Linked DNA regions of Homo sapiens. The protein of the gene in region 1 purifies or fractionates together with the protein of each later gene. This does not show direct contact. Each region holds a gene or a part of one and is shown on either strand. Other genes may lie near its edges. The genes, in order: CTSE, B3GLCT, MTMR9 and L1CAM.

The links.
Region 2: the proteins of CTSE (region 1) and B3GLCT purify together in Homo sapiens (affinity purification with mass spectrometry; 2 studies listed by BioGRID and IntAct, with this or other methods). This does not show direct contact.
Region 3: the proteins of CTSE (region 1) and MTMR9 purify together in Homo sapiens (affinity purification with mass spectrometry; one large-scale study listed by BioGRID and IntAct). This does not show direct contact.
Region 4: the proteins of CTSE (region 1) and L1CAM purify together in Homo sapiens (affinity purification with mass spectrometry; one large-scale study listed by BioGRID and IntAct). This does not show direct contact.

Annotation. Positions count from the first base shown.
Region 1 is NC_000001.11:206,021,096-206,030,077, forward strand, and holds the start of CTSE (cathepsin E isoform a preproprotein), read right to left. Parts: upstream 2,801-8,982; 5' UTR 2,697-2,800; coding exon 2,629-2,696; intron 1,963-2,628; coding exon 1,806-1,962; intron 1,173-1,805; coding exon 1,055-1,172; intron 73-1,054; coding exon 1-72. UniProt on the Homo sapiens protein: May have a role in immune function. Probably involved in the processing of antigenic peptides during MHC class II-mediated antigen presentation.
Region 2 is NC_000013.11:31,278,045-31,286,230, reverse strand, and holds part of B3GLCT (beta-1,3-glucosyltransferase precursor), read right to left. Parts: intron 3,011-8,186; coding exon of another isoform or gene 2,964-3,010; exon of another isoform or gene 2,925-2,963; intron 1,584-2,924; coding exon 1,470-1,583; intron 1-1,469. UniProt on the Homo sapiens protein: O-glucosyltransferase that transfers glucose toward fucose with a beta-1,3 linkage. Specifically glucosylates O-linked fucosylglycan on TSP type-1 domains of proteins, thereby contributing to elongation of O-fucosylglycan.
Region 3 is NC_000008.11:11,287,816-11,291,988, reverse strand, and holds part of MTMR9 (myotubularin-related protein 9), read right to left. Parts: intron 1-4,173. UniProt on the Homo sapiens protein: Acts as an adapter for myotubularin-related phosphatases. Increases lipid phosphatase MTMR6 catalytic activity, specifically towards phosphatidylinositol 3,5-bisphosphate and MTMR6 binding affinity for phosphorylated phosphatidylinositols.
Region 4 is NC_000023.11:153,857,488-153,865,673, forward strand, and holds the end of L1CAM (neural cell adhesion molecule L1 isoform 1 precursor), read right to left. Parts: intron 8,014-8,186; coding exon 7,812-8,013; intron 7,724-7,811; coding exon 7,601-7,723; intron 7,508-7,600; coding exon 7,334-7,507; intron 7,218-7,333; coding exon 7,098-7,217; intron 6,991-7,097; coding exon 6,835-6,990; intron 6,531-6,834; coding exon 6,396-6,530; intron 6,063-6,395; coding exon 5,990-6,062; intron 5,893-5,989; coding exon 5,881-5,892; intron 5,408-5,880; coding exon 5,176-5,407; 3' UTR 4,029-5,175; downstream 1-4,028. UniProt on the Homo sapiens protein: Neural cell adhesion molecule involved in the dynamics of cell adhesion and in the generation of transmembrane signals at tyrosine kinase receptors.

The DNA.
Region 1 (8,982 bases):
ACTGAATGGAGAAAGATTGACCTGGCTGGCTGTATGTGCTGGACTGGGAAGGCTGGAACCTGCTGTGCGTCTCTGGAAAGAAGTGCACTGCTCTTGCTTATGCCATCGGCTCACTGGCTGCATCCCTGCCCTAATGCCACCCAGCCCCACAGCGGCAGGGTCTCTTCCCTCAGCTCTCAACACTGAGTGGGGGCCCCTAGAAGCCTGGTGATGCCCCTCCCTAATGAACAACTACATTTCCCTCTAGCTACAGATGTGGCCTAACTGGGGACCAAATAGCTATCCCTGAGCAAACCTGATTGTCCACAATGACCTCATGAGGCACACCAAGATAAGTGTCATTTATCAGGCGCCAGCCACAGTCCCTGCCACCCATTGTGGGTCAGAGGTTGGCTTCAAAAGAAACTCAGGGATAAACAATTGCCCCAGGAAATTACTCCCAACTTTTCTCCCAACCGATGGACATCTCTAGCCTTGGGGTTTCCAGAGACATTCTGTCTCTGGGACTTGTCCTGTATCGAACAAGACATCTTTCTGTAGCTCTTCTTTTCCAATCCTCACTGAAACTTCTGAGTTACCTCTGGACAAATGGACCCACCCATGCCATTGTGCCCCACCAGCCCCACCTGTGTGCACCAGGAGATAAGGCTACCAAGCCTCCTTGAAACAAGCAGACTATCTACACTAGAACCCGACTCACCTCCCTGCTCAGAAATAACCAATTAAATTAAACTTCCCCTACATTCCTTTGGGTGTTCCAAAGGAAGTGAGTCATTATGTCAAAGATTTCTCTTTTCAATGGCTTTCTTTCTATTAATTCTGATCAGTATGAAAGTTACTCTCTTGGACAGCAGCCACATTTTAGTTCTTCCTTGGCTTTGCTCTATCTCTGCTATAAGCAGTTCCACGGCTGACTCAAAGATGGAGAGTGGAAGCTGGTGTGGCAGGGATGGCCAGTTTCTGGAACCTAAGCCCCCCTTCCCCAGAGTACCAGGCTTGGCCTCCCAGGACTAGCCCCCAGACATTCTCTGCTGGTGCTCCTGGCCCCACTTACTGCAGGCTGGGCTAGTGCAGTACACAGAGGGGACCCAGAGGTTGGAGGAGCCAGTGTCGAAGATGACAGTGAAGTTCTGTGGTGGGGAGCCAATGGAGATAGTGCCGAAGTATTCCATCTGCAAGGAAGAGTGAGAAGGAAAGAGGGTGTGGGTGGTGGGGAGGGACAAGGGTGCTCACCAGGAAGCCAGGGGAAAGCTCCCAGGGGCCAGAGCCTGGGGTAATACAGACTGGAGTTTACAGAGCCTAGGAAGTGGCAACGCTGGAAAATAAAAGGTAAAAGGAGCAGAGAAATGGCCATGAAGGAGGAAATCAAACCAAGCCTCTGGCTACTTCATTTGATTTTACTTGCACTAACCTGATTCTTATAAATACATTGTAGGAGAGGCAGTGGAGGAAGAACCATCTGTTTTACAGACCAGGGAACTGGGGCTGGGAGAGGTTAAGTAACTTGCCTAAGGGTACACAGCCAGTAAGCTGCCCAGCTGAGAGCAGAAGCAGGGGCCTTCAGTGTGGGATGATGCTTTCACTCCCAGCCCTTTCCTTCTGCAGAGAACTCTGACATTTGGGTACATGGGGGCCTGCTTAGCCAACTCCATGGGGACCCAGGGAATCAGTCCCCATGGATCATCATCCAAGTGAAGAAATCCACAATGGCCTTCGGTGCTACTGATGTGGCACTGGCCATGCCCTAATGCTGGGCCTTCCTCCCGCTCCCACCTCTCCCCAGCCCTGACCCCAGGAGGCCTCACATCCAAGTAGTTGATGAGGGGTTCCTTGGCACTCTGGTCCATTGAGCAGGACTCGGTGAACTGGATCATGTCCAAATTATGGGATTTCCAGAACTCAGAGAGCTGGCTCCGTGCCCGCAGCTTCTTCTTGAGGGACGGATGCCTCCTGAGGGGCACCCTGGAGACAAACCCCCATGTAAGCAGGAGATGTACTTCTGCCTCCCTCTTCCCCCCATTCTCGTCCCATTTTCTCAGGGGCCAACTAGAGAAGATGGGGTGGGAGGGGGGGATCTGCAAGACAGCACGCAGGATACAGGTGGGATCAGCGTCCTCTCTGCCACTCAGCCTGCCCGGCCTCATCTCTGCCCTATAGAGTCTTAGAATCTTAGAGTGGAAATGGCTCCCCTCCTGGAGCTGAGGTCTTTGAGATCTAGGAAAATGGGAGATGTGGGGCGGTCTACAGTTTTACATGAACATCACGAAGGGCTGATTTAAAGGGACAGAAAAACTCTTGGGGACAGTGATGGTCAGTCCCCTGGGGAAGTCCTGGGGCGCTTTGAGCTACAAACCACAACTGCAGGTTCCTGCTCTTTTGCAACACAAGAAGACCCCTGGGACTTGGGAAGGCACCTCCGTGGAGGTGGAGGCAGGAGGATGACTTGTTGAGGACTGGAGATTAAGGCCATACACAGGCGGTCACTGGATGAGTCTCTTCCATGCATTGACGCAAGCCCTCAGCTTCTCCTCCTCTTCACCTCCCCATCAGCTTTCCTACCCCAGAGCAGCCCTGAGTTGCAGGGCATGGGACTACCCAGCTGAACACAGTGCGGGGACGTCTTCTCACCTGTGAAGGGATCCTTGGGCCTCTCCCAGCTCCAGGAGCACCAGCAGCAAAAGAAGGAGCGTTTTCATTGTGAGTCCGACCAGCAGCTTCTCCCTTGCCCCCTCCTTTCTTCTCTCCCCGAGGGCAGTGGGAACGGACTTTCCCTAACTCTCAGACCTGCCCAGCCCAGTCTGAGGGCCGAATGATAAGGCCCTGGAGTCATTAGCCATGCCCAGAGTAAATACGGCATGTGGAACAGGGCGTTCCCCCTGCACCTCTCCGTCCCTTTCCCACCTACAAGAGGAATATGAGTCTGCGGGGAGAACTTGGGAGTCCTCTGGGGCTTGGCTTCTCTCAGGGCTTTGGCACCTCCTCTGACCCCAAGAAACCCTGTTAATGAATCCGGAGGGCAGCACATGCCTGGCTGCCTGGAAAGGCCCACTGAACTCTTACTGCAAGTGCTCTAGCTGGAGACTCTGGAGGGGTGGGAGCTGACTTGTCATGGGTGGCAGGATTCTAACTCAAAATATTCGTCAGTCTGTTTTCTGGGTGATTCCTGTTCTCTCCTCAATCTCTCAAATGCTCCAAAGGCAGTTTATCCTTCCCTGGCCCACTTTGAAGCACAAACCAGCACTCCTCAAAGGCCCTGAAATGGGAAAATGTAGCTGCAGATTTATGGAGCCCACTCTCCTGACTCTAAGGACTTGATGAATCTGGGGCTGGGGCTCAGGGGTGTGTGGAGGAGAATGCAGGGGCAGCGAGGGAGGGTCAAGGGGGTCAGCGTCTACAGCAAGTGCCCGCATGAGTCTACTAAAGCGGCCATGACAAAGTACAGGGGGCTTAAACAACAGAAATTTATTTTCTCACTATTCTGGAGGCTGGAAGTCCAAGATCAAGGTGTTGGCAGACTTGGTTGCTTCGGAGGCCTCTCTCCTTGGCTTGCAGATGGCTGCCTTCTCTCTGTGTCTTCACATGGGTCTTCCCTCAGCGTGTGGCTGTGTCCACATCCACATTTCCTCTTCTTATAAGGACGCTAGTCATATTGGAGTAGGGCCCACCCTAATGACTGCGTTTACCCTTAATACCTCTTTAAAGACCCTATCTCCAAATACAGTCACGTTCTGAGGTACTAGGTGTTAGGACATCAACATGGATTTTGGAGGACAAAGTTCAGCCCTTAACAGTGCTCAGGGACAATAGGATCTTCTATCTGTCAAGTGGGACTAAGCGCAGGGGTGGAGAGTGGGTGGGGCTCAGGCCTTAGTTACCGCAGTGTGTGAAACCCCCTCACCATCAGCCTATCTCTGTGGCCACCCGCCTCATAAACAGATGGTGGGGCTTCAGTGCCTGGGGTGGGGATGAAGGGGTTACAGGTAGGAAGACCCTGACCCTGACTCAAGTTAGCCAGGGCAGCAGAGGCCACCACCATATGCCAATGCTTCCAGAGGGCACTAGCTCAGCAGTAGGAAGTAGATGGCCTGCGTTTAGGTTTAGCTCTGCCCTGACCAGCTAGTGTTCTGGAAAATCTCTTAAGTGCTATGGGATCTGCCTTTCATCTCTGAAGTTCAAATGGCAAGCAAACGTGGAGTATGGAGCTAAGCCAAACCCACCCTTGGGTCCAAAAATGTTAAAAAAAGACATCAAAAAGACTTAAGGAACAGCCTAGACCTTTGACCCCTGAACCCAAGGCAACAAAGCCTCTTTGGCATTTCCCAGGAGCCCGTCTTGTTGATCTTTCACTGGGGAGAGTGGTCTAAACCTAGAAGGGCAGCTTGAGTCAGAAGTGGCTAGAAGTGGAGATCATTCATTTTGGCAGTAAACTCTGCCATGTTTTGCCCGTAACTGCTTATTCACCACATACCTTAGTTTTGTCATCTGCCAAATACCTTACCTACATCAATGGGTTTTTAAGGAGGATTAAACAAACAAAATAAGGTACAGATATACTTGTTGTACTGCACTCTGCTTTACTGCACTTTGCAGATACTGCTTTTTTTTTTTAATTGAAGGTTTGTGGCAAACCTGTGTCAAGCAAGTCTATCAGCACCATTTTTCCAATACTGTGTGTTCATTTTGTGTCTCTGTGCCACATTTTGGTAATTCTTGCAATATTTCAAAGTTTTTCATGATTATTTTATCTGTTTTGGTGATCTGTACTCAGTGATCTTTGATGTTACTGTTGTAATTGTTTTGGGGTACCACAAACTGCACCCGTGTAAGACAGAGAATTTAATAAGTGTAATTGTGTGTTCTGATTGCTCCATTGCTCTACTAACTGGTCATTCCCCCATCTCTCTCTCTCCCTCTCTTTCTCTCCCCCTCGGGCCTTCCTGTTGCCTGAGACACAACAATATTGAAATTAGGCCAATTAATAATTCTACAGTGACCTCTAAGTGTTTAAGTGAGAGGAAGATTTGCATGTTCCTCATTTTAAATTCAAAGCTAGAAATTATTAAGCCTAGTGAGGAAGCCATGTTGAAAGCCAAGAAGGGCTGAAAGCTAGACCTCTTACACCAAACAGTTACCCAAGTCATGAATGCAAAGAAAAAGTTCTTAAGGGAAATTGAAGGTGATATTACAGGGAACACACAAATGATAAGAAAGCAAAATAGTTTTCTTGCTGATATGGAGAAAGTGTTATTGGTCTGGATAGAAGATCAAAGCAGTGACAACACTCCCTTAAGTCAAAGCCAAATCCAGAGCAAGGCCCTAACACTCTTCAGTTCTATGAAGGCAGAGAGAGGTGAGGAAGCTGCAGAAGAAAACGTGAAGCCTATGGAGATTTCTGCAAGGTGAAGCAGAAAGTCCCAAAGCAGAAGCTGCAGCAAGTTATCCAGAAGATCTAGCTAAGATCATTGATGAAGGTGGCTACAATGAACAACAGATTTTTAGTATAGACAAAATAGCCTCATACTGGAAGAAGATACCATCTAGGACTTTCATACTAGAGAGAAGTCAATGCCTGGATTCAAATCTTCAAAGAACAGGCTGAATCTTTTGTTAGGGGATAATGCAGCTGGTGACTTTAAGTTGAAGCCAATGCTCATTTGCCCATTCTGAAAATCCTAGGGCCCTAAAAAACTATGCTAAATAGAGTTTGTTTGTGCTGTATCAGTGGAACAACATAGCCCTGGATGACAGTACATTGGTTTACAGCATGGTTTACTGGATATTTTAAGCTTGCTGTTGAGACCTACTGCTCAGAAAAAAAAAAATTCTTTTCAAAATTTTACTGCTCATTGACAATGCAACTCATTGCCAAAGAGCTCTGATGGAGATTTATAAGGAGATAAATGTTTTTATGCCTGCTAACCCAATATTCATTCTGCAGCCCCTGGATCAAGGAATAATTTTGACTTTCAAGTCTCATTATTTAAGAAATGCATTTTGTAAAGCTATAGCCACCATAGATAGTGATTCTGATGGATCTGGGCAAAGTAAATGGAAATCTTCCGGAAAGGATTTACCATTCTAGATGCCATTATGATTATTCATGATTCATGGGAGATCAAACTATAAAATTAAAAGGAGTTTGGAAGAAGTTGATTCCAATCCTCATGGATAACTTTAAGGGGTTCAAGACTTCAGTGGAGAAAGTAACTGTAGATGTGGTGGGAATAGCAAGAGAACTAGAAGTGGAGCCTGAAGGTGTGACTGAATTGCTGCAACCTCATGATCAAACTTGGATGGATGAGAAGTTGCTTCTTATGGATGAGTAAAGGATGTGGTTTCTTGAGATGGAATGTATTCCTGGTGAAGATGCTGTGAACACTGTTGAAATGCCAACAAAAGATTATGAATATTGCATTAACTTGGTTGATAGCAGTAGTAGGGTTTGAGAAGATTACTCCAGTTTTGAAAGAAGTTCTACTGTGAGTAAAATGCTATCAAACAGCATCATATGCTACAGGGAAATCTTCAAGAAAGGAAGAGTCAATCTATGTGGCAAACTTCATTGTTTTCTTAGTTTAAGAACTGGGCGCTGTGGCTCGTGCCTGTAATCCCAGTATTTTGGGAGGCCGAGGCGGGCAGATCACCTGAGGTCGGGAGTTTGAGACCAGCCTGACCAACATGGAGAAACCCCATCTCTACTAAAAATACAAAACACCTGGGTGTGGTGGTGCATGCCTGTAATGCCAGCTACTCAGGAGGCTGAGGCAGGAGTATTAATTGAACCTGGGAGGCGGAGGTTGCAGAGAGCCGAGATCCTGCCACTGCACTCCAGCCTGGGCAACAAGAGTGAAACTCCATCTCAAAAAAAAGAAAGAAAGAAAGAAAGAAATTGTCATGGCCACCCCAAACCTGGAGCAACTACCACCTTGATCAGTCAGCAGCCATTAATGTCCAGGCAAGACCTCCGCCAGCAAAAAGGTTATGACTCCCTGAAGGCTCAGATGATTGTTAACATTTTTAGCAATAAAGCATGTTTTAATTAAGATGTTTTTAGACATAATGCTATTGCACACTTAATAGACTACAGTACAGGGTAAACACAACTTTTGCATGCATTTTGAAACCAAAAAACTTGTGTGATTGACTTTATTGCAATTTTCACTTTATTGCAGTAGTCTGGAACCAAACCCACAGTAGCTCCAAATGATGCTTGCATGTGGAAGTTCTTGAAAAACTGTAACATGTCATGTGAACTAAAGATTGTCACTAAAAACTTCAGTGTTTCAGAAGTGCTGGAAGGGTTCTTACAGACTCTCAAGACAAACCCACTTGTATAGCAGAATGAGAAAACTGAGGCAGAGAGGCAAAGTGATCAGCCCAAGAGCACATGGTTCATTTAGTGGCTGATCTAGGATTAGGACTCAGCCCTCCTGACTTCTAAGCGGGCAAACTTTCTGCTACAGAATTATAGCATCATTATCACTGAACTGTTGAAAGGGGGCTAACCATAACCCCTCCCTCCTTTTCCATCTTTTAGACCTCTCCCTGCATCCCTCTTGCCCCTGTTTACTAAATGTAGAGAGTTTGCCTGGCCCAGGCTTGAGAAAAAGCTGACTGGTCCTTGCAGCTGTGGGCCACCTGACTACTGAGTGGAGCAGACACAGCCTCGACTGCCTGCAAGGAGCCCCTGGGTCTAGCTGGATTTTGGAAAATTTGACAAAGGTTAAGAGCAGGAACACTGGGGATGTTTGTCAGAGCTAATGGGATCTGTCCTCTCCAGAGACACCAGGAACTGAACCTACCCTGGCTGTAGATTACTGGCCTTTTCCAGCAAGAACCAAATATTGCTGTGGACAATTTGAACACTTTCCAAAGAACAAAAGACCTTAGGCATATGTGTGGTTGTCTGTGTGTGTCCTTTGAGCAGAGGGAGAGAGAAGAGCATTTGAGGTGAAATAGTATGATGTGGGGGAAAGTGACACATAGTATAGTCAATGATCCGGTCTCTCTGCATTAGGAGAGGGTCTTTGGAGAGAGAGAGAGAGGGGTGGGGGGAGAGAAAGAGACGCTCAAGAACGTGGATTGGAGGCTGGCTGGATGTAGAGACTTTGTTCCCAGAACATTTGAAAGCTGGTGGTGGTGTCACTATCTAGTGAACTTCTTTCTGGAGCTTCAGCTTCCAGAAAGTAAATTAATAATAAGAGGACATTTGGGAGGCTGAGGTGGGCTGATCACTTGAGGTCAGGAGTTCAAGACCAGCCTGGCCAACATAGTGAAACCTTGTCTCTACTAAAAATACAAATATTAGCCAGGCATGGTGGCACGTGCCTGTAATCCCAGCTACTCAGGAGGCTGAAGCGGGAGAATCTCTTGAACCTGGGAGGCAGAGGTTGCAGTGAGCCCAGATTGCTCCACTACCCTCCAGCCTGAGAGGGCAACAGATGTCTCAAAATAAAATAATAACAATATAAGAGGACAGTTGCTCAGTGCTCTGTGGATAAGTTTTATCAGGGCTCGATAGCTCCTAGAACAGAGTCTGTTACTGTCAGACATGAGCTGGCTCCTGCTCACAGGGGAGCCGGCACCGCAGGATGCACTCCAGGATGCCTGACTCTTGCAACACATTGCTGGTTCAGCACAAACCTGGCCAACTGGGAAATGGCCCAACCTCTTTTGCTTAAAGTTAGGAAATGAGGGAAAATCCACGATGCTGTGTGTGGTACAGTAGAAAGATGTCTGTACCAGGTGAGATGAGATGAGATGAGATGCCTGGCTCCAGTCCTGGCTCTGCCACTAACTGGCCATATGATCGCAGATAAATCCCTTCTCTCTGAATCTAGTTTTGTTGCCTATAAAATGAAGAGGCTTGATTGGGTGACAATATCAAGGAATACTTTGGAAGCATTAGCTCTGTGCTAGGCTCTGAGCTAAGGGACTTACAAGCATTAGTTCATTCAAATCTCTCACCAATCCTATCAGCTA
Region 2 (8,186 bases), on another chromosome or scaffold:
GCCAGATACTGTGGCAGGTACTAAGCACTAAAGATATAGTGCTGAGTAAGACAGAGTAACAGTCCTTCAGATACCAATAGATAAATTACAATGCTTTAATGGTAAATGCTGGACAAAAATAAAACACTTGGGAAGAGTAGTCAAATTGATAAACAGGAATATGCCCCTCATTTTAATTATTTGGTGACACAGTGGAGCACAAATATTAACTTATATTAATGACTATTAAACCACTCAATTTGACCTTTATTTTCTTTACTCTTGATCTCTGTGTATTTTTAACCATTACAATACGTGTTTCAAAGCCACCTCAAATCCCTTTTAGAACAAATATAAATATAGACAATAAGACCAGACTAGTAATGAAGACATCAAATAAGGTATAAGTAAATACATGATTATTAAACCCAATCTAAAATCGTTTTTCCAAATCAAACAGCAACAGACAGACTCAGTAATACACTTAACCTTGTTAGAAGAATTGGTAACTACAGAGATGGCATATCTGATTCTGCATTGTACTATATTAATGAAAGAATTATGAGTGACACTAACATAAAATAAGATAAATTACTGTATAGAACATAATCAGTTTGCTACTTTTTTTTTTTTTTTTTTTTTTTTTTACTCATAAAAGGGCATGGGGAACAAAAAAACTAAAGAACAAAGGGTGGCAGGAACACTGGATAAAACTTAAGATGAATAAAGAATATCTGAAGATGAGGTGGCCAAATTTTCACTTCCATTTTTTGACACAATTTTTTAAAATTTTTATAGATTTAAGAGGTACAAGTGCAGTTTTGTAACATCGACATATTGTACAGTGGTGAAGTCTGGGCTTTTGGTGAAGCCATCACCCGAAGAGTGTCTATCGTACTCAGTGGGTAATTTCTCATCCCTCGCCCCTCTTCTACTCTCCCACCTTTTGGAGTCTCCAATGTCTACCATTCCACTCTGTATGTCCTAAAAAGTGTTTTTAATTAGAAAGCCTGCAATTTGAAGAGAAAAGCAGGTTTATTTCCAACAATTTACTAATTAAAATCTTAACATATAGAATACAGTTTATTCTACATATAACTAGTGTAGAATGTGATTAGGTGGTACTCACGGGTAATATAATATGTGAACTAGACTATAAGACTGACAAGGAGAGAAGCTTTATGTGGGAATATAATAAACACCCCATCATGGTCGCAAAGAATTATGAAGGTATGAAAAATCTATTGTTAAATTCTGCTGTAACTATCATGTGCTCAATTATAGGATATAAGCTACTAAAAACTTGCAACACTTCGTACTATAAAGCCCTTAGTTTGAAAGAACCAATCAGTATCTGAGAGAAGGGAAAAAACTAATATGAGGCAAAAATTATAGCACTTATAAAACATTTCATTTTTATCCTAACCTAATTTACTGTATTTACAGAATGGCAATGTTTAATAAGGAGAGTAGTAAGAATTATGACTCACCTCTATCTGTATTAGGAATTCCCAAATCCACAGTAGGAATGGAATTTTCAGTATAGTCACTATAGTATTCAATGAGACTTGCCTGGCTCTCCCAAGTCTGCTTAACAATAGGTACTGAAAAAATTACAGAGGTGACAATCACTGGCACAGTTACACAAGGAAGCTTAAAAATTCAAAATGGCAGTATAATCATCTACAAAGGAAGAGAAACATTACTGGTTGTTCTTCAGGTGTTCCAAGAGTTGCTTGCTTCCAACCCTGAGAAATGCCAACGTTGTTGACTAAAACCCTCTTCTTGAAGCATTTTCAACATTCTCTAGAGTAAAGCATTTCTCATTCCTGGTGATGAATGCACTTACTTCCATATAATGATAAATTTTCTGGTTTGATTATGCTATTGTGTTTACATTAATGTTAACTAATTTTTCTTTTACCACGGAGCACGGTAAGAGAAAATCCATCCCTCTTACCGTGGAGCATGAGAAGACCTTTGCAAACTATGCATGTCCCCACCCAAAGATTCTAACAGAACTACCCAACCCTACAAAGGGCATGACCTTGCCAAATGAGAATCACTGCATATGATGACTGATATTACGATGTTGTACTTTTGAAAAATGTGGAAGTACTAACATTCAAAACTACTGCAGGCTTTAAAACTCTATCATTAGCAGCTAAATTGTTTTAACACAATAAACACAACAGAAAGCTGTCCTGGTTTTCTGTATTTTGGCTTTGGAGGCTCAAAGATAGCTCTGTCTGCATACCTGACATATAGACTTACCACTACTTGATATTAATTCACCTGACCAAGTAATTCTTTTCTTCTATACTTAAAAAACAAATTACTGCCTATGCATCTCTGAATTTTAAAAAGTGGTTTCTTGTTTTTTCAATAGAAAAAACATTTAGATTTTATATCCTGTCAAAACTCTGATGAACCAAATCTTCACTTAACTTTTGAGAAACTTTATCAGATCATGTATCTTTCCCCTGTTCCCAACTCTAATAGAAATATATACAAAAACTGATGTTCCAATGTAAAATTTAAGTGTTTAGCTAATAAGTAAGCAAATTCTGAGTCCAGCTCAGACAGCCCTTATATAGAAAATACAGAAGTGCATCATTTTATAATCTCTTTCACTGGCTTTTTTTTTAAAAAAACTGAGTTCTGCACATCTGCTAAAATTACCAAATTACCAGTTAAATATTAATTTCATATATTAAAATATAATTTTTCTGCAACCATAAAAAAGCAGATAGTTCTAAAGGTTTCTACATGTCAAAATGGTCAAAGATGTACTAAATAATAGGGCTACTGGCGGACAAAAAAAGGAAAAAAGAAATGTTAAAAAATTTCACTCTGTTCTACTTCCAAATTTCAGCACAACAAAAATGTTAACCTTGGCACTGCTGTGGCAGTTTGCTTTGCATACAATAAGCAAGAGAACTTACCCCAGAAAGGGCTCCCTGCAGCTTGCAGCCACTAAAAGTTCACACTGTTGGGTAAAATATCCTCCATTGCATAATGCTGGAAGAAGCTGTGAGGAAAGGTCAAGAACTTTCCTCAGTCCCCAGCAAGGGTCCTGCAGGCTGTGCAAATTTTGCTTTCAATTTCCTCAGCCTTTAGGCTTTCAGTCCTTTTTCGCTCTAATAGGTTTATTAAAGAACACGGGTGTTTCTTCTCAATTAACTGAGTTAAATAAAATTAAAATCAAAATCAAGGGTGAGTTAGCACTTTTGCTTTCTCTTTTACTTTGAAACAGGTAAAATAGAAATTACACTAAAGGTAAGAATTAGTGTGTGTATGACTCATTTCCCAACACCTGGCACAGTGCCTAGGACATAGTAGACACTCAATAAACAGTTGAATGAGGACTGAATTTTGTAGGCATTTCAATAAAAGGCCTAGGATTATTTGTGGAAGCTTGTTAAAGGAAGGTTTTATTCATAAAGGCAATTCAGCCTTTGATTAATCATTTTAAAACAAGCCAACCATTTAGATATACTAAGATATTATGATTCTACAATACCTAAAGCATTCAACAGTTTGTACATCTCTCCCCTTGTCAATATAACCTCCATGCATCTGTCATTTTTTTTTTTTTTTTTGAGACAGAGTCTCACTCTCTCGCTCTGTTGCCCAGGCTGGAGTGCAGTGGTGTGATCTCAGCTCACTGCAAGCTCTGCCTCCTGGGTTCACACCATGCTCCTGCTTCAGCCTCCTGAGTAGCTGGGACTACAGGCGCCCGCCACCACGCCCGGCTAATTTTTTTTGTATTTTTTAGTAGAGACAGGGTTTCACCGTGTTAGCCAGGATGGTCTTGATTTCCTGACCTCGTGATCCGCCCGCCTCGGCCTCCCAAAGTGCTGGGATTACAGGCATGAGCCACCGCACTCGGCCCTGTCTGTCATCTCTTAGCCATAAAGGATTTAAAGTCTTCCAAAAAAACAGCTTAAGGCTTTATTTTCAACCAGGGTTGATTCTAAATTAGTTAAACTTTTAGAATAATGGTCTATTTTATTAGCATCATTTAAATTCTAAAATGAATTCATTCTATTATTTACAAAATATTTTATATTGTATTGAGGCACTGTATTCCTAAAGATACTAAACTTTGAGAAAATACTTTAATAAGTTACCTGATACATTATCTCCTTTTCAATAAAGAAGTATACTTCCTATAATAATAGTGAATGCCTCTTTCAAGAAAGTTTGTCATGAGATAACTTAAACTTGGAGCAAAGTAAAAAAAATTTTACTATAAAAATGCCAGCTGCACAGATGGCATAAATCTTTCTTAGAGCTTTCTAGACTCTAAGCAGAAGATGTGTCTCACTATGAGGACAGAACATGCATTTTTACCCCCAGGGAGGTGACTTATAAAACTGTCTCAGATTATAAATGAAAATGAACTTGACACTTGAACATTTTATTAAAACTACCACACCATCAAATGTGAATAGTTTTTATTTTAAGGAATCCACTATTTTCAGCTTGCAGATGGCCCTTTTGTCTCAGTGTGCAAGTCAGTGGTCACAAAATAAGACCCTGATTGCACTTCTCTTCTCAGGAGCAGATTAGGGACACACACATGAATGTGTCCTAATTCCTCATTTTAAAGACTGAGGTGTACCTAAGCCTGAAAAGTATCCCTCCTGGATGCCCTAACACAACACTGTAGGGCAATCTGGAACATCAGCTATTCAACAGCCAGGGAAAGGCAACACCTGACTCCTCTCCTCTCTTCATTCATTGATCTAATCACCTCATTTGATTAGAGTCTGGCCTTCTATCTGGCTGTATTTTAATTCAAGCCTCACCTTTTAAGTAAGCAGACTGTACCACAGTACATGTAAGCCTCTTTAGTCAAAGAGAACACCAGCCACCAAACACCCCTTTCAATCAGTTTGTTCAGATTTGCCTCTAGACAAGACCACAGCAGTAAAGACAGCAAACAGGTTTTTGTTTTTGTTTTTTTTTAATCTGAAAGGAATATAGTGCTAATTTTTAAGAGCCTAGGAAGCTGTGGAAAGGAACTAAAGGCTGAGCAAACGGCAATTTAACCTCTTTAATTAGAGGGAGACTGCAGGAGAGCATCCCACAACCCACCATTTGATGAACAAAACCAGTGGCTGCCACGAGGTACATGAGACATGTACACAAACTGCATGGAAAAATGATGCAAAGAAAATTCTTAAGGTTTTCTGACAGCTCAGGTCACACAGTGGGAAACACAGAACCCAAGAGGAAGCAATCAAGTTGAATATTAAAACACCAGAGATCATTTCCTTGCTTAAATATAATTTTACATGCTATGCCCAATTCATCACCTTATGTAACAGTTCTCAAGTTTCTTTAAAATCCTACTAAATGCTTGCCTCTCAGAGGGTGCTGCTGTTTCAATGATGTCAATATGTATTACTTCCTTGAGCCAAAAGACAGAGTATATTTTTGCTTGTTGTGTTCTAAGAATGCTGTTTCACTTAAGTCAGAATCCAGACAAAAGCAATTACATAAATGTGTTATTGTTAAGCCAAGAAAGTACAATATTTAAAATATTTCTTTTCATTGTGAAACTTGGTTTTATTATCAATTCTTCCATGAGAGTATAAAAAATAAATGCAATCTATATTTTCCCTTGCTGTGACTACGGCCTTGAGCAGAACATGTTCCATCTCTCCTTCTCATCCCAGAAGGTAACCAACATATAATGAAGCAGGAGTGGGGGCCATCACCACCCAGTGCCAGGGGACACTGTGCCCACAATTAACAGTACACCCCACTCTCAACTTGGCAAACACAAGTACAGTTTCTCTAGATTTTTTTCCTTCATCATTTGGCCTTTGTTACTGAAGTATTTCTACCACAGAGTGTTGCGGGAAGTCAGGGACCCCAAACGGAGGGACCGGCTGAAGCCATGGCAGGAGAACATAAATTGTAAAGATTTCATGGACATTTATTAGTTCCCCAAATTAAAACTTTTATAATTTCTTATGCCTGTCTTTACTGCAATCTCTGAACATAAATTGTAAAGATTTCATGGACACTTATCACTTCCCCAATCAATACTCTTGTGATTTCCTATGCCTGTCTTTACTTTAATCTCTTAATCCCGTCATCTTCATAAGCTGAGGATGAAATGTCACCTCAGGACCCTGTGATGATTGCGTTAACTGCACAAATTGTTTAAACAATATGAAATCTGGGCACCTTGAAAAAAGAACAGGATAACAGCGATATTCAGGGAACAAGGGAGATACCCTTAAAGTCTGTCTGCCTGTAGGCTGGGCAGAACAGAGCCATATTTCACTTCTCTCAAAAGCAAATAGGAGAAATATTGCTGAATTCTTTTTCTTAGCAAGGAACATCCCTGAGAAAGAGAATGCGTTCCCAAGGGACGGTCTCTGAAATGGCCGCTTTGGAAATGTCTGTCTTTTATGGTCGTTGATAAGGGATGAAATAAGCCCCAGTCTCCCGTAGCGCTCCCAGGTTTATTAGTATGAGGAAATTCCTGCGTAATAAATTTTGGTCAGACTGGTTGTCTGCTCTCAAACCCTGTCCCCTGATAAGATATTATCAATGACAATGTGTGCCTGAAACTTCATTAGCAATTTTAATTTCGCCCTGGTCCTGTGATCTCGCCCTGCCTCCATTTGCCTTGTGCTATTTTATTACCTTGTGAAGCAAGTGATCTCTGTGACCCACACCCTATTCGTACACTCCCTCCCCTTTTGAAAATCACTAATAAAAACTTGCTGGTTTTACGGCTCAGGGGGCATCACAGAACCTGCCAACATGTGATGTCTCCCCCGGACACCCAGCTTTAAAATTTCTCTCTTTTGTACTCCTTCCCTTTATTTCTCAGACTGGCCAACACTTAGGGAAAATAGAAAAGGACTCACGTTGAATATTGGGGGCTGGTTTCCCCCACTAATAGAGTGCACAGGGAAAAGAAAATGAAAAAAAAATCCAACACCCCAGACCATGTATTCTGCTTGACTATAGCAGTGATATGCTTAGATAGGAGTGGCAGTCTAAATTCTCAGCTCGATTTGTATTTTAGATCCTGTGTGGGTTTCAATTCCTTGCCATCCCCATTGCTACTAAAAATGGAAAGCCTACTTTCACAGCTTCTGGCCAAGTCAAAACTGACCTTGAGCATAGCAGGACATCAACATGAATAGCAAAGACTATTTATCAAGTATGGAGTTTGTAATACATCCAAGGAGATTACAGTATAGCTGTGCTGTGGTAGAAAAAAATGTGGGACTTAGGAGCCAGAAAACCCAAGTCTTTGGCTCTGCTACTCAATAGGATACAAGAAACTGAGCCAGTTGTGTATCATTCCATACTCAGCTTTTTCCACAACAAGTGAATAACAATAATTATCATATCACGAGGAAGTGTCAACATGAAACTAGGTAATAGAACATATGTGAAAAACACACCAGAAAATGTAAGAAATATTAGCAGTTAGAAGCAGTTAGTGTGATGTTATCCTTGTAACTGGTATTACTGGATAACTCTTTGGGCCAACTGATGGCTGGACTAGGCTTCTAAAATGAGGGGCAGAGCCCAGTGGTGGCTTGGCAGGCTACATGAAGTCATGCAAAATGGACTTCAAAGTCACTGAAATCCTGTTGCCTTAGACTATCTTTTCAAACAAACATATCCAAGTTGAAAAACGGCTTACCACAGAAACCCAAATATGAAAACTTCATGATACATTTTAGGCCTCATGCTTTAATGATCCCAGATTCAAATTAACAGCAGTAAATCAATGCATCTGGCTTTGGAAGGTTTGTTTCTAATGCTCCTAATAGGCTTTTAAGATTTTGTAATTTTTAAAGACTTTTGACTCAAAATTCAAACAGAAAAGGATTTCATGAATATCTAAAAAGAGTATCTCAAACTTATGCAAAATAAGAAAGCAGTAAACTAGATTATTCAAAATTACTAAATCAAAATTAACAAACTATTTTTTTTTTCATTTCTGTAGAATATAAAAAATACAACAGGGAGTGTCCCTAATTTTACTGCTTCACTGTGACCTGAAAAATGTGTTTCAAAGAAAAAGTACCAGCAACACCATCCTTAACATTAATATTGTGAAAACAATCACTACTCCAAGTGTAGCTTCAAGATCAATTAAATCAATTCAAACAGTTCCTGCTTGCTGTAAAAGAAACAAAACAAAAAGCGGTATAGTTCAT
Region 3 (4,173 bases), on another chromosome or scaffold:
ACTTATGGTGACAGTTTCAGGGTGTGTACATATATCAACACACATCAAAGTTTACACTTCAAATATATATAGTGTGTAATACGTCGACTGTACCTCAATAAAACTGTTTTAAAAATCACTGTCATTCTGCTTCAGCTGGAAGTGAAAGACACACAGCAACCAAACTGTCAGTAAAAAAACAAAAAAAATGTACAAGACATACGGTTATTCTCTTGTAAATTTCCATATCATCTATGCTTGTCATACTAACTCATTTTGTAAGGTGAATTTTGTTTTGTTAGTCTGGCAGGTTTTATGTAGTTGCTATAAAGTATAATGAATGACTAGAGGAGTTAAAAATAATTGTTACTTTATGTCAGAATAAATATGCTATAAACTATTAAGGTATTCTCCATTCATTTATTCAATGTTTCTAGTCAGTTACTTATAGAACAGTGGGCCAAGAAAAATATGTTTTAAAAACATAAGAGCTCCACAAAACTCCTATGATTCACATCAATTGTCAGATTCAGTTCTATTTTATCATTTTGTCCTTATTGTCCCATCCATGCCCTGTATACATCCCTATCACAGCATTTAAAATACTTTATTAAACTTTCTAGTTTATATGTTTATTTCTTATAATGGTCTTAGTTTTTTCAGGTAGAAGGCATGTTTGATTAATTTCTATATCCTCAGCTCCTAGTACAGCACCTAGCATATACACCATCTTAAAGTTCCACTAAGGGACTTAAAGGAAGATCTGAATAAATAATGTAACATTGTTCATGGATGTCAAGATGTCAATTTGACTCCAATTAATCTATAAATCCAAAACAATTCATTTTTTTAAAATCCTATGAAAATTGTATAAAGTCTGTGGTCTAGTTAATAGTACTGCACCAATGTCAATGTCCTAATTTTGTCCTCATTTTGATTACACTACAGTTATAAAACAGGTCAACATTAGGGGAAGCTGAGTGGACGATTCTAAAACCTCTATGTGCAATTTTTGCAACTGCCTTTGAGTCTTCAATTATTATTAAAGACTTTTAAAAATCCCATGAACATAGCAAGTTTTCCAAAATTGCATGGAAACATAAAGGTCGAAACATAGTTGTCAACTTTAAAAAAAAAAAAAAAAAACGAAAGCGGGGCAACTAGCACTATCCGATTTTTGGACACATCACAAAGCCACAGAAGGAAAGAGAATATGATGATGACAAAAGAGCAGATTAATGAACCAATGGATTATGACAGAGAGCTCAGAAACAGACCCGTATATATAGGATAACTTGACATAAACCAGCCAAGGTTGGGTTGTCACGTGATGGGATTAAGAAAACTGGCTTGCTCTATGGAGAAAAATAGGTTCTTATCACACTTGAAACAAAGATAGAATCCAAATTAAAGACCTAAAAATGAACAGTAAAACTATGAAGCTATTATGGAAGAAAATGTAGGAGAACATCCTGGTGATTTGGGGACAGGGAAGGAGTTCTTAAGACAAGCCACACACCATAAAGCAAAACATTGGCAAGTTCTGCATTAAAAGTAAAGATTTCTGTTCAACAAAGGGCACCACAGAAAAAAACAACAGATGGGTGACACACTAGAAAACATTCGTAATGCCTAAATGGAGAATGAACACCCACAGAGTATACAAGGTACCCATGCAAATCAACATGAGAAGGACAATAAACCCAATGTTTAAAAGTAGACCACAGAAATTAGGCAATTCACAAAAAGGAAAAAAAAAAATTTTAAGTATACTGCTCACAAGCATATACAAAGATAATTAAACACTAATAATTAATGAAATTCAAATTAAAACAAAGCAATAACTATTTCACAATCTTCAGACTGGAAAAATTAGAAAGACAATACCAAATGTTGGTAAGAAAGTGGAGACGAGGTACCCTCTCCTGCACCATCATGGGAAGGCAATGTGCAATTGTCATCCTGGAAAGCAATTAGTTTGTGAAATGAGATACGCACCTACTTTATGGCGCCATCCCATCCTAGGGGCAGTCTCAGAGCAATTATGGCACAAGACTATATAAAGGGACATGAATGAGTATGTTTACCAGAGTTGTTTGTGATAGCAGGGAGTTGGAAGTTACCTAAAAGGTCTGTTAAGGAAGCTCTTTTAGATACTTTGGAATCCTATGCTGTCAGAAGCAGTGAAATGGTTGTACACACAGCAATATGAAGAGATCTTGAAACAGTATTGTGTCACCATATTAAGAAGCAGAACAAGATCTACAACATAATCCCAGTTAGGCAAATTAAACTCACACATGCATGTGTGCGCACACCCATACACAATAGTGCTATCTATTTTATAGCAACAACTAACGTGGTTGCCTACAGGGATTGTGGATGAGGCAGGAAACGGGAGTGAAAATTAGGGAGGAAGAAAATCAACAACAGAGGAAACCTTTTAAGGAATCAATCATGAAAATGATGAGTCATCAACTGAGTAGTAGTAACTCAATTTTCTGAGGTCCATTAAAAAAAAAACCAGGTATAACTGTAAAACTTGTATACAACCTTGCATGTTGAAAGGATCAAATAAAATGATGTAAGCGATATATATGAAAGTATTCCACAGACTTGTGAAGCATTATTTAAACTTAAGTTTCTACGAGGTTAAGTAGTTTGCCCAAAGGCACTTGTCTAGTAAGAGGCAGAACTGAAGGAGTTACCCTTAATGACTTTCTCACCTCATTTACAATTCACCAGCAAGGCAAGGCAGCTCCACTTTCAAAAACACATCCCAAATCAGATTCCTTGTGACTACACTACTGTTTTTTGTTTGTTTGTTTGTTTGTTTTGAGACAGAGACTCACTCTGTCACCCCAGGGTGGAGTTCAGTGGTGCAATCTCAGTTTACTGCAACCTCGGCCTCCCAGGGTGAAGTGATTCTCCTGCCTCAGCCTCCTGAGTAGCTGGGATCAGAGACATGCACCACCAAACCCAGCTATTTTTTGTATTTTCAGTAGAGATGAGGTTTCACCATACTGGCCAGGCTGTGTCGAACTCCTGACCTCAGGTGATCTGCCCGCCTCGGCCTCCCAGAGTGCTGGGATTACAGGCGTGAGCCACCGTGCCCGGCCTACCATCATCTTTTATGTGAACTACTCTACTCTCCAAGCTGGGCCTGCTGCTTCCAGTCTTGCCCCCCTACAGTTTATTTTCTGCCAGCAGCCAGAATTGTCTTCTGAAACATCTATCAGCTGCTGCTTCCTAGCTTTCACCTCTCCAAGGGCTCCCATGAAAACCATTACTGTGGCCTGCAGGCCCTCCACGGTCTGACCACTGCTTATCCCTCCAGCCAGTCTCTACCATCAACTTCCTGTACTCTCTGTTCCCTGCCCTGCAGCCACACTGGCCTCTTCGCTCTTCTCTGCACATGCCAAGCATGTTCCCCATCTCAAGTCTTTGTATTCGCTGTTCCCTCTGGCTGCAATGCTCTTCCCCCAGACACTCACAGTTCTAGCTTCCTCATTTCATTCCGGTCTGTAGTCAGATGTCACCTGCCTTCTCTGAAATCCTTTCTAAGGAAACTGCCTCCCAGTGCTCTTTATCCTCTCATCTTCCGTTACTTTCCTTCCTGGCCCTTATTACCTGACATCATTATATATATATTATATATATATAAATATATTATATATTTATGTATATATATTATATATACATATTATAATATATATTATATGCTATATTATACTATATTATAATATATAATTATTATAATATAATTATTATTATTATATATTATAATTATTAATATATTATATATAATAATTACATGTATTAGGTGAATAGGTGAATAAATAATTATTCACCTATTCGCTGAATAATTAGGTGAATATTTAGGTGAATAATTATTTAATATAATTAGGTGAATAATTATATATATTATATAGGTGAAATATAATATATATTATATAATACGTATTATATAATATATATTATATATCATACGTATTATATACTATGTATTATATGTAATATATATTATATAATACATATATAATACATAGTATATAATACGTATGATATATAACACATATTATATAATATATAATACATATTATGTTATATATAATACGTATTATATATGTTATATATTATAATATAATATATAACATATATAATAAAATATATAATGTTATATATTATATATTA
Region 4 (8,186 bases), on another chromosome or scaffold:
GAGAGAGAAAGGAAGAAGAAAAGAGAAAGAAAGAAGAAAAAAGAAAGAAGAAAGAAAACAGAAAGAAAGAAAAAGAAAGAAAGAGAAAGAAAGAAGAAAAGGAAGGAAGGGAAGAAAGGAAGGAAGGAAGGAACAAAGGAAGGGGAAGAAAGGGAGGGAAGGAAGGAAGGAAGGAAGTTGGTTAGAGAGAGGCCCACAGAGCTGAAGCTGGGTCTCTGAGGTCTGAGGTGGGGGCGTGGCCTAGCTAGTTGTGGAGGAGTGAGCTCAGTAGAGGGACTTGTGGGGCTGGGATCCAGACCTCTAAGGAGCAGGGGTCTGGCTGATGCTGGGGTCTCTGAGCTCAGGGGATGGCCTAGTACTCAGATTTTGGAGCATAGGGCACTGGGTGTCCGGTGGTGGTGTCTCAGAGGTGGGATGCAATGAAGCTGGTCTTGCAAGTGTTGAGAGATCTGAAAATTGGCTTCAGGCAGTGCCACGGAAATGAAGCACTTGCTGCAAGGGTGAAGAAGCCTTGTTAGATGGTGCGCCCAGGAAGGAGCAGGTCCCTTCTTCCTCCTCCAGTCTTGTGGGCTCCCTTAAACGCCCCCAGCTAGCAGAGCCTAGGAGGGAGGCGCTGGTAAAGCAGGAGCATCACCAAGCAGAGGACAGCAAAGGGGGTGGCACGCCCACTCCACAAGCCAGCACTGCTCCTTCTAGGGCACGGATCTCAGAGAAAGGACTGCATATGCCCACTTTATCCATGATGGCTACCATTGGAAACAACCCACACGTCCATCAACGGGGGAATGGGTAAGTGAGTCGCGGTGCATGCGTGCATACAATGGCTACTAGTCAGCATCACAGAGGGAAGAAGGGACACAGACGTCAACCTGGATGAGTCTCATGGAAGTGATTCCAGAAAGAAGCCGGCACAAAGGGCTCCAGAGCGTGTGCTTCCATTTCCATACCCGTCAGGAGCAGGCGAGACCATCTACAGCCATAGACGGCAGGACAGGGCTTAGATCTGCAGCCAGGGATTGGCTGCCTGGAGGCACAAAAGCATTCTCTGTGGTGATGCAAATGTTCTTTAGTTGGTCCAAGTTGTGGCTGCATGTGTGGATAGGCAGGTGAAAAAACCAGGCGTGCACTTGATTTTCTGCACAGTAATCCTCAATAAGGACTTGTTTCACGGATTTTTAGGGCAGTGGAGTTACTCTGTATGATACTGTAAGGGTGGATCCATGTCATTATACCTTTGTCCAAACCCATAAATGGACAACACCAGAGTGAACCCCGATGTCAGCTATGGGCTTTAGTTCATGCGAGCTTCTCACTGTGGCTCACCAATTGTAACAAACGTACTACACTGACTCGAAATGTTCATCATGGGGAGGCGTAAGGGGAGTGACGGGGTCTGTGGGAACTCCTTACTTTCCGCTCAATTTTTCTGCAAACCTAAAATTGCTCTAAAAAGCAAAATGCCTTAATTTTTTAAAAACCCAGGAAAGCAGCCCAGGGCCGATGTGGCAGCTCCAGGTGCTCAGGCCCTCGGGCTGCCTTTGTTGCTGTTCCGCCATCCTCAACGTGCGACTTCCCTTTGGTGCGACAAGGTAGCTCTCCCCATGATCACAGATCACATTTGCCTTTCAGCTGTAAGGAGACAGAAAGTGGCTGGCACAAGGCCATGCGTGGTGGCTCACGCCTGTAATCCCAGCAGTCTCGGATGCCAAGGCGGGCAGATCACCTGAGATCAGTAGTTCGAGACCAGCCTGGCCAACGTGGCAAAACCCTGTCTCTACTAAAAATACAAAAATAAGCTGGGTGTGGTGGCGGGCGCCTGTGGTCCCAGCTACTCTGGAGGCTGAGGCAGGAGAATCACTTGAACCTGGGAGGCAGAGGGTGCCGTGAGCCAAGATCATGCCACTGCACTCTAGCCTGGGTGATCGAGCGAGACTCCATCTCAAAAAAGAAAAAAAGAAAGAAAGAAAGAAAGGAAGGAAGGAAGGAAGGAAGGAAGGAAGGAAGGAAGGGAAGGAAGGAAGGAAGGGAAGGAAGGAAGGAAGAAAGGCGCCAGCACAGGTTTGCCCTGCAGGTATGGGTGCACTCATGCCCCACCACCCTACTGGGTGCATAGAGGCTGGGAAATGGGTCTTCAGCTGAGCTGCCATGTCCCCAAGCCACAAATCTAGTGTTATGGAAGAACAGAAAAACAGATATTGGAGGGCAATAAGTGGACGCTGTTACAGGTGGGGATCAAGGGGGACAATGAGTGTAGAGGAGTCTTGAGGGGTTTTGCTGTAAACAGGAGCAGTGAAACGGGGCAAGAGCCAGGGGGCATGCGGAGGCAGGAGCGGGAGCTTCCGGTGATAGAAGCTCCAAGGGCATGTTGGTATGCTGCTGGGCCTGACCCCACAGGGAGAGAGAAAAATTACAGGTGCAGAAAACAGGAGGAGAGAGGGGGTCTCAGGGGTGGCAGAGACCACTGCACATGGTGGGAAGTGTTCACCTGAGGGGGCTAGGGCTGGGGAGGGGACAGATTTGATGATGGGAACTCAAGGAAAGAAATTCTCGTCAGATGCTCTCAACTTGCTCAGTGAAACATGAAACAAAGTTCTCACCTTGAAAGTGCAGGGCCTGGGGGCTGAGGGGAAGGTGTGAGGCCTTGGAGAACCAGGGAGGAAACTCTAGAATTCCCAAGGAAGGCTGGCTCTGCCTGGGTCCACTTGAGGCTTGTGGTCATAAATCTAAGGTGCTTAGTCCTGGGCTGGGTGTGGTGGCTCACGCCTGTAATGCCAGCACTATCGGGAGGCCGAGGTGGGAGAATTGCTTGAGCCCAGGAGTTCGAAACCAGCCTGAGCAACATAGGGAGACTCCATCTCTACAACAATAATTTAAAGATTAGCCAGGCGTGGTGGCGTGCTCCAGTGGTCCTAGCTACTTGAGAGGCTGAAGCCAGAGGATTTCTTGAGCCCGGGAAGTGGAGGGCTCACCTGTGCTGGGTTTTCTTTCTTTCTTTCTTTCTTTCTTTCTTTCTTTCTTTCTTTCTTTCTTTCTTTCTTTCTTTTTTCTTTCTTTCTTTCTCTTTCTTTCCTTTTCTTTCTCTCCCTCCCTCCCTTCCTTTCTTTCTTTCTTGCTTGCTTTCTTGCTTTGTCTTTCTCTTTCTTTCTTCTTTCTTTCTTTCTCTTTCCCTCCCTCCCTCCCTCTCTCTCTCTGTCTCTCTCTCTCTTTCTTTCTTTCTCTCTTTCCCTCCCTCCCTCCCTCCCTCTCTCTCTCTCTCTCTCTCTCTCTCTCTCTCTTTCTTTCTTTCTTTCTTTTTCTTTCTTTGTCTCGCTCTGTCGCCCAGGCTGGAGTGCACTGGTACAATCTCAGGTCGCTGCAACCTGATTTTTTTACCTGCCTATCCACACATGCAACCACGACTCGGACCAAACTAAAGAACATTTGCATCACCACAGAGAATGCCTTTGTGCTTCCAGGCAACCAATCCCCAGCTACAGAGGTAAGCCCTGTCCTGCCATCTATGGCTGTAGATGGTCTCACCTGCTCCTGATCACGCCACTGCACTTCAGCCTGGGAGACAGAGTGAGACCCTGTCTCAAAAAATAAATAAATAAGGTGCTTTGTACTGGTTTAGAGGGCTGGGTACCCCAGAGAGAACGATGCCACCGGGGCACATCATGAGTCTTCCACTGAGCCATGGAGCTGTGTCCCTTGAGACAGGGGAAGAGGCTCCTGCCGCTGGCCACACTCTACTCTCATGTTTGAGCAGTGAAGGGCCCGGCCATGGTGACAGCTAAGCTTGGTCTCAGGAGGCCAGCAGAGGCGAGGATCCTGAGCCCCAGCAACAATGTGACAGCAACACCCAAGGCAGCCAACAGCCAGGCCTGGCAGGGTGGGTGGAAGGCCCGGGCTCTGGGAAGGGGCAGGGAAGCATCAGGACTGTGTGGCTGGGCCACACCCGGGCCCGCCTGGCAGGTCGCTCCTAGCACCTCCCACAGTGTGACGTGGACAGGGGAAGTAAGTGTTCCGCGAAATAACAAAAGGTGCTCTTGATTTTCAGGTTTTATTTGCCTGTTATAATTCTGATATTATGTACATATATATATATACTTTTGTTTTTTTGTAGAGGGCTTATCAGTAGACCAAGCACAGGCATACAGGGAGGCTGTGGCTGCTGAGCAGTGCTGGGAGAACCAATCTTTCCTTTTTTTTTGTCTGTTTTTATTTTTCCTGGGATGGGTTCATCAAAGCTAATTGCTATCAATCCTAGAAACCACCTAGGGACTCAGACATCTGCCTACACACTAGTGGCGTAAAGGGAAGGACAGGGGTACAAACTTTCAAAGTCACGGTGTATTTACATTCCCAAGGTGGGGGCGGGAGGAGGCTGAGGAAGACAACTGTTCAGACGATAGGGAGGGCAGGGCTGCTAAGGGGTCCTGGGGGGTGGGGGCGGCTGGAAGAGGCCGGCCAGTGGGCAGTGGGAGGAGGTGTGCCCGCCCCGCAGCCAGGTAGTGACGGAGGCCACTTGGATGTTGTGTGGTGGGTACCGAAGGCAGCGTGTGTATGGAGCTCCTGAAAGCCGGCCATGGGGTGGGCTGGGCGGCGGGAAGAGGCGGTGCTGCCAGAGTGCGATGCTGGGAGTGGGGGGACTCTGGGCTCTCCAGATGGCCTCCCCTGCCCCCGCGGCCAGTTTGCCCGGCTCCCATCCCGGTTGGAGCAGAGATGGCAAAGAAAAGACAGCAGATGGTGGGGACACCGAGTTCTGTTCCCAGTCCCAGCCAGGCTGGCTGGGGAGTGGCTGGGGGAGGGGGAAGGTGCCAACCCTGGTCCTGAGGAGACCCCACCATGTCTGCCCCCAGTCAGGGAGCAAGAAAGACAGCATTTCGGAGACCCTTTCGGGCCACCCCTACTTCTTCTCCCCCAAACCACAGCCTCTCTGCCCAAATGGGCTGGCAAAACAGCACCCAAAGGCCCCTGGCATGTGGGAGATCTGCCCAAGCTGGGGCAGAGCAGCGTGTGCCCAGGAAGGGGTGCAGCTGGGTTTTGGCAATAAAGTGGGGACCGGGTGGTAGGAAGGGGATCCGAGGCAGCAAGTTCTCCTCTGCCCCAACTCCAGCCTCCCATGGGCCTGCTGGAGAGGGAGGGGCCTGGATCCCAAGGCCAGGGGCACAGCATCTCCTGTCCTGGACTCCACTATTCTAGGGCCACGGCAGGGTTGATGGGGGAAGTGGCCCCTGAGCTGTCATTGCCCCCTGCCGCCTCCTTCTCCTTCTTGCCACTGTACTGGCCAATGAACGAACCATCCTCGTTGAACTGAACATCCACGCTGCCCCCATAATCGGCCAGGCTGTCGTCACTGCCCAGGGGCTTGATGTCCCCGTTGAGCGATGGCTGGCTGCTGCCAAAGGCCTTCTCCTCGTTGTCACTGCAGAGGCACAGGGCAGGTGCGAGTGAGAGCACTGCCGAGCCCCTGCAGGAGCCTGGCTGGGGGTGAGGCAGACGCCCGCCTGCCTTCCATTTGTTTAGAATGCGCTCAGAAAGAGCAGCTCTGGCCACCCTGGCAGGCAGGTCTGGAGCTGTCATCTTTGGGCATTCCCCAGATCCTGGGGACTGTGAGGGAGAAAATGTGCGCTCGGCCAGGGGATTATGGGGCCTGGTTCCTGTCTGGGAAGCTGTCTGGGGCCTCCCTTGGGGAGAGGGGAGCAGTGAAGGTATCTGTGTGGAGAGGAGGGGCTGGGGCGTGTTGGCCTCTCCCTGAAATGAGGAGCTGCCGGGCCTGGGGGCTGGGAAGTGAGAGTCCTGTCAGAGCCCCGGCAGCCAGGGGACAATGGCACACCAGGCGCACATTGTCTATAGGGAGACCTTGCTGTTGGCCCCTCCCCACCGCCCCTGCCTTACCTCTCCAGGGACCTGAAGTCACCCGGCAGCACAGAGAAGAGAGAGAGGGGGTGAGATGTGAAGGCCAGGGTGGAGCTGAGTGCCAGCACCCACTCCTGCCCCGGCTCACCTGTACTCGCCGAAGGTCTCATCTTTCATCGGTCGGGCCTCAGAGTCCACCTGGGTGTCCTCCTTATCCTTCACTGGAGACACAGAGAGGGACAGCTTCTTCTCCCGCCCCAGCCTGACCCGGGGCTCCAGGCCCCTCTACGCCCCGCACCCCCAGCACTCTGTCTCAACAGCGCCCAGAGGCAAGAGGCCTTGAAAGAAACCGCTCACCCCCTGCGGTCCAGCCACCACTTGCCTGTTGCCCCAACCCCGGCCTGGGAGGATGATCCCCCTGCCTGCCCCCACCATGCGCCTGTCATCTTGTGGGGAGCTCGGGGAATCCAGGAGGCCTTGCAGAAGGGTGGAAGGGGCGAGGTGCTCCTCTCTGCCCTCGGCTCCACCCCCGTCACGTGGGGCTCAGAGGCTACCTGAGTATTTGCCGCCCTTGCTGCGCTTGATGAAGCAGAGGATGAGCAGGACGAGGAGCAGGAGGATGATGGCACTCACAAAGCCGATGAACCAGCCCTCAGTGGCGAAGCCAGCAGGAGGGAGCCTCACGCGGCCTGAGGGTGAGACACCAGCCCCCCGTGCTGCCGCCCAAGCCAGAACCCGACCTGAGGCCCTGAAGTATGCTCTTAAAGTTGGGGCCCTCTGGGGGGCTAAGGAGTGACAGGGACAGGGAAAAGGGCATCTGCGGAAAGGGTATGAAAGGGGGCTGATTCGGGGACACCCAGATTCTGGGAGGAGAAGCAGACAGGAGCCGTGGAGGGAGCCTGGGCAGTAGTGGCCATTCAGGGGACAGAAGGACATGAATTGTGCAGCCCCCATGCTTCCCTGGCAGGTGATGGCGGGCCCCCGGCGCCTCACCTGTGCCATTGGTCTTCACAGCCATTTGGTGCCGGAACATCCTCTCCTTAAACAAGTGGATCTCGTAGTCAGTGTCAGGCTGCAGGTCCCACTGCGTGTAGGAGCTCTGGTTGTAGCTGACATACTGTGGCGAAAGGGAAGCCCCACCCTTCTCTTCTGCCAGGGAGAGAGGGTGGCAGCAGGGGTGAGTCGGAGTGCCAGGCAACCCCTCTGGCCCAGAGCCCCCTTCCCCACCACGCCCCAAGGCCCCCTTTCACGCTTACCTCCCAAGGCTTTGAACAAGATATGGAACCTGAAGTTGCACTGGCCCTCCTTGGGGACCCAGGAGACGACACTGTAGTTTTCACCCGCTGTGGCTGAGATGTTGCCAAAATCTGAGATCCCTGGGGGGATGCAGGGGAACGAGGAGAGTGTGGCAGCTGCCAGGAAGTCTAAGGCCCTCCCTCCTGGACCCGGCTGGCCGGGGCCTCCCTGTTGGCAGGTCATTCCTCCAGCTTACCAGACAAGGCCATAGTGCCTCCTTCCCGTACGATGGCTTCACCAGGGCCCTCTTTGGTGGTGGCCTGAAGCTGGAAGCGGTACCGCAGGTGGGGGCTGAGATCGGTCAGGTTGTGTGTCCGAAGTTCGGGGTCCCGAAGGTTGAAGGACAGTTGCCCCTTGCCCCCCTCATCCACTGTGGGGACAGACAGGGGTTGGCTGTGGCTGCAGCTCTGCCCCCTCCCCGTGGCCCCTCCACCTCCCTTCCCTGCTGGGGCGGCGCACGCACGGGGGTGGTAGGAGAGCACGTAGCCGGTGAGCACGCCGTTGTGGCTGAGTGGGGGCTGCCAGCGCAGCAGCAGGCTGGTGTTCGACTGGCACTCCAGGTGCAACGCCTCGGGGTGGCCAGGCACTGCAGGGCACAGAACCGAGTGGCAGGTAGGTCCTCGCCCAGGTCTGGGGAGGAGGGCAGGGGATGAGGCGTGGGGTGCAGGACTCACCTCCCTCTGGGGTGCTGAAGGTGAACTCGCTGGCGGGCCCCGATCCTCGCCCGTTAAAGGCCTGCACCTCCAGGTGGTAGGAGCTATAGGGCCGCAAGCCACTGAGGATGACACTGGTGGTGTTGGCGGGCACCACCACATGGTCTTTGTGGATATGTCTCTTGCTGTGCTTCCTCTGACTGCCCTCCCTCCAGTACGTCACCTGCACAAGCGAACAGGAGACCTCGCAGGGGCAGAAGGCACCCAGCAGGGCCCCCAGCGCACACCCCCACCACCCTTAATGGGGACCCTCCTCTCAACCCAAGTCTTCCAGGAGAGCGGCTGGCAGGTGGCAAAGCCCCCTCACCATCCTGTCGCTTTACCTCAGTGATCACC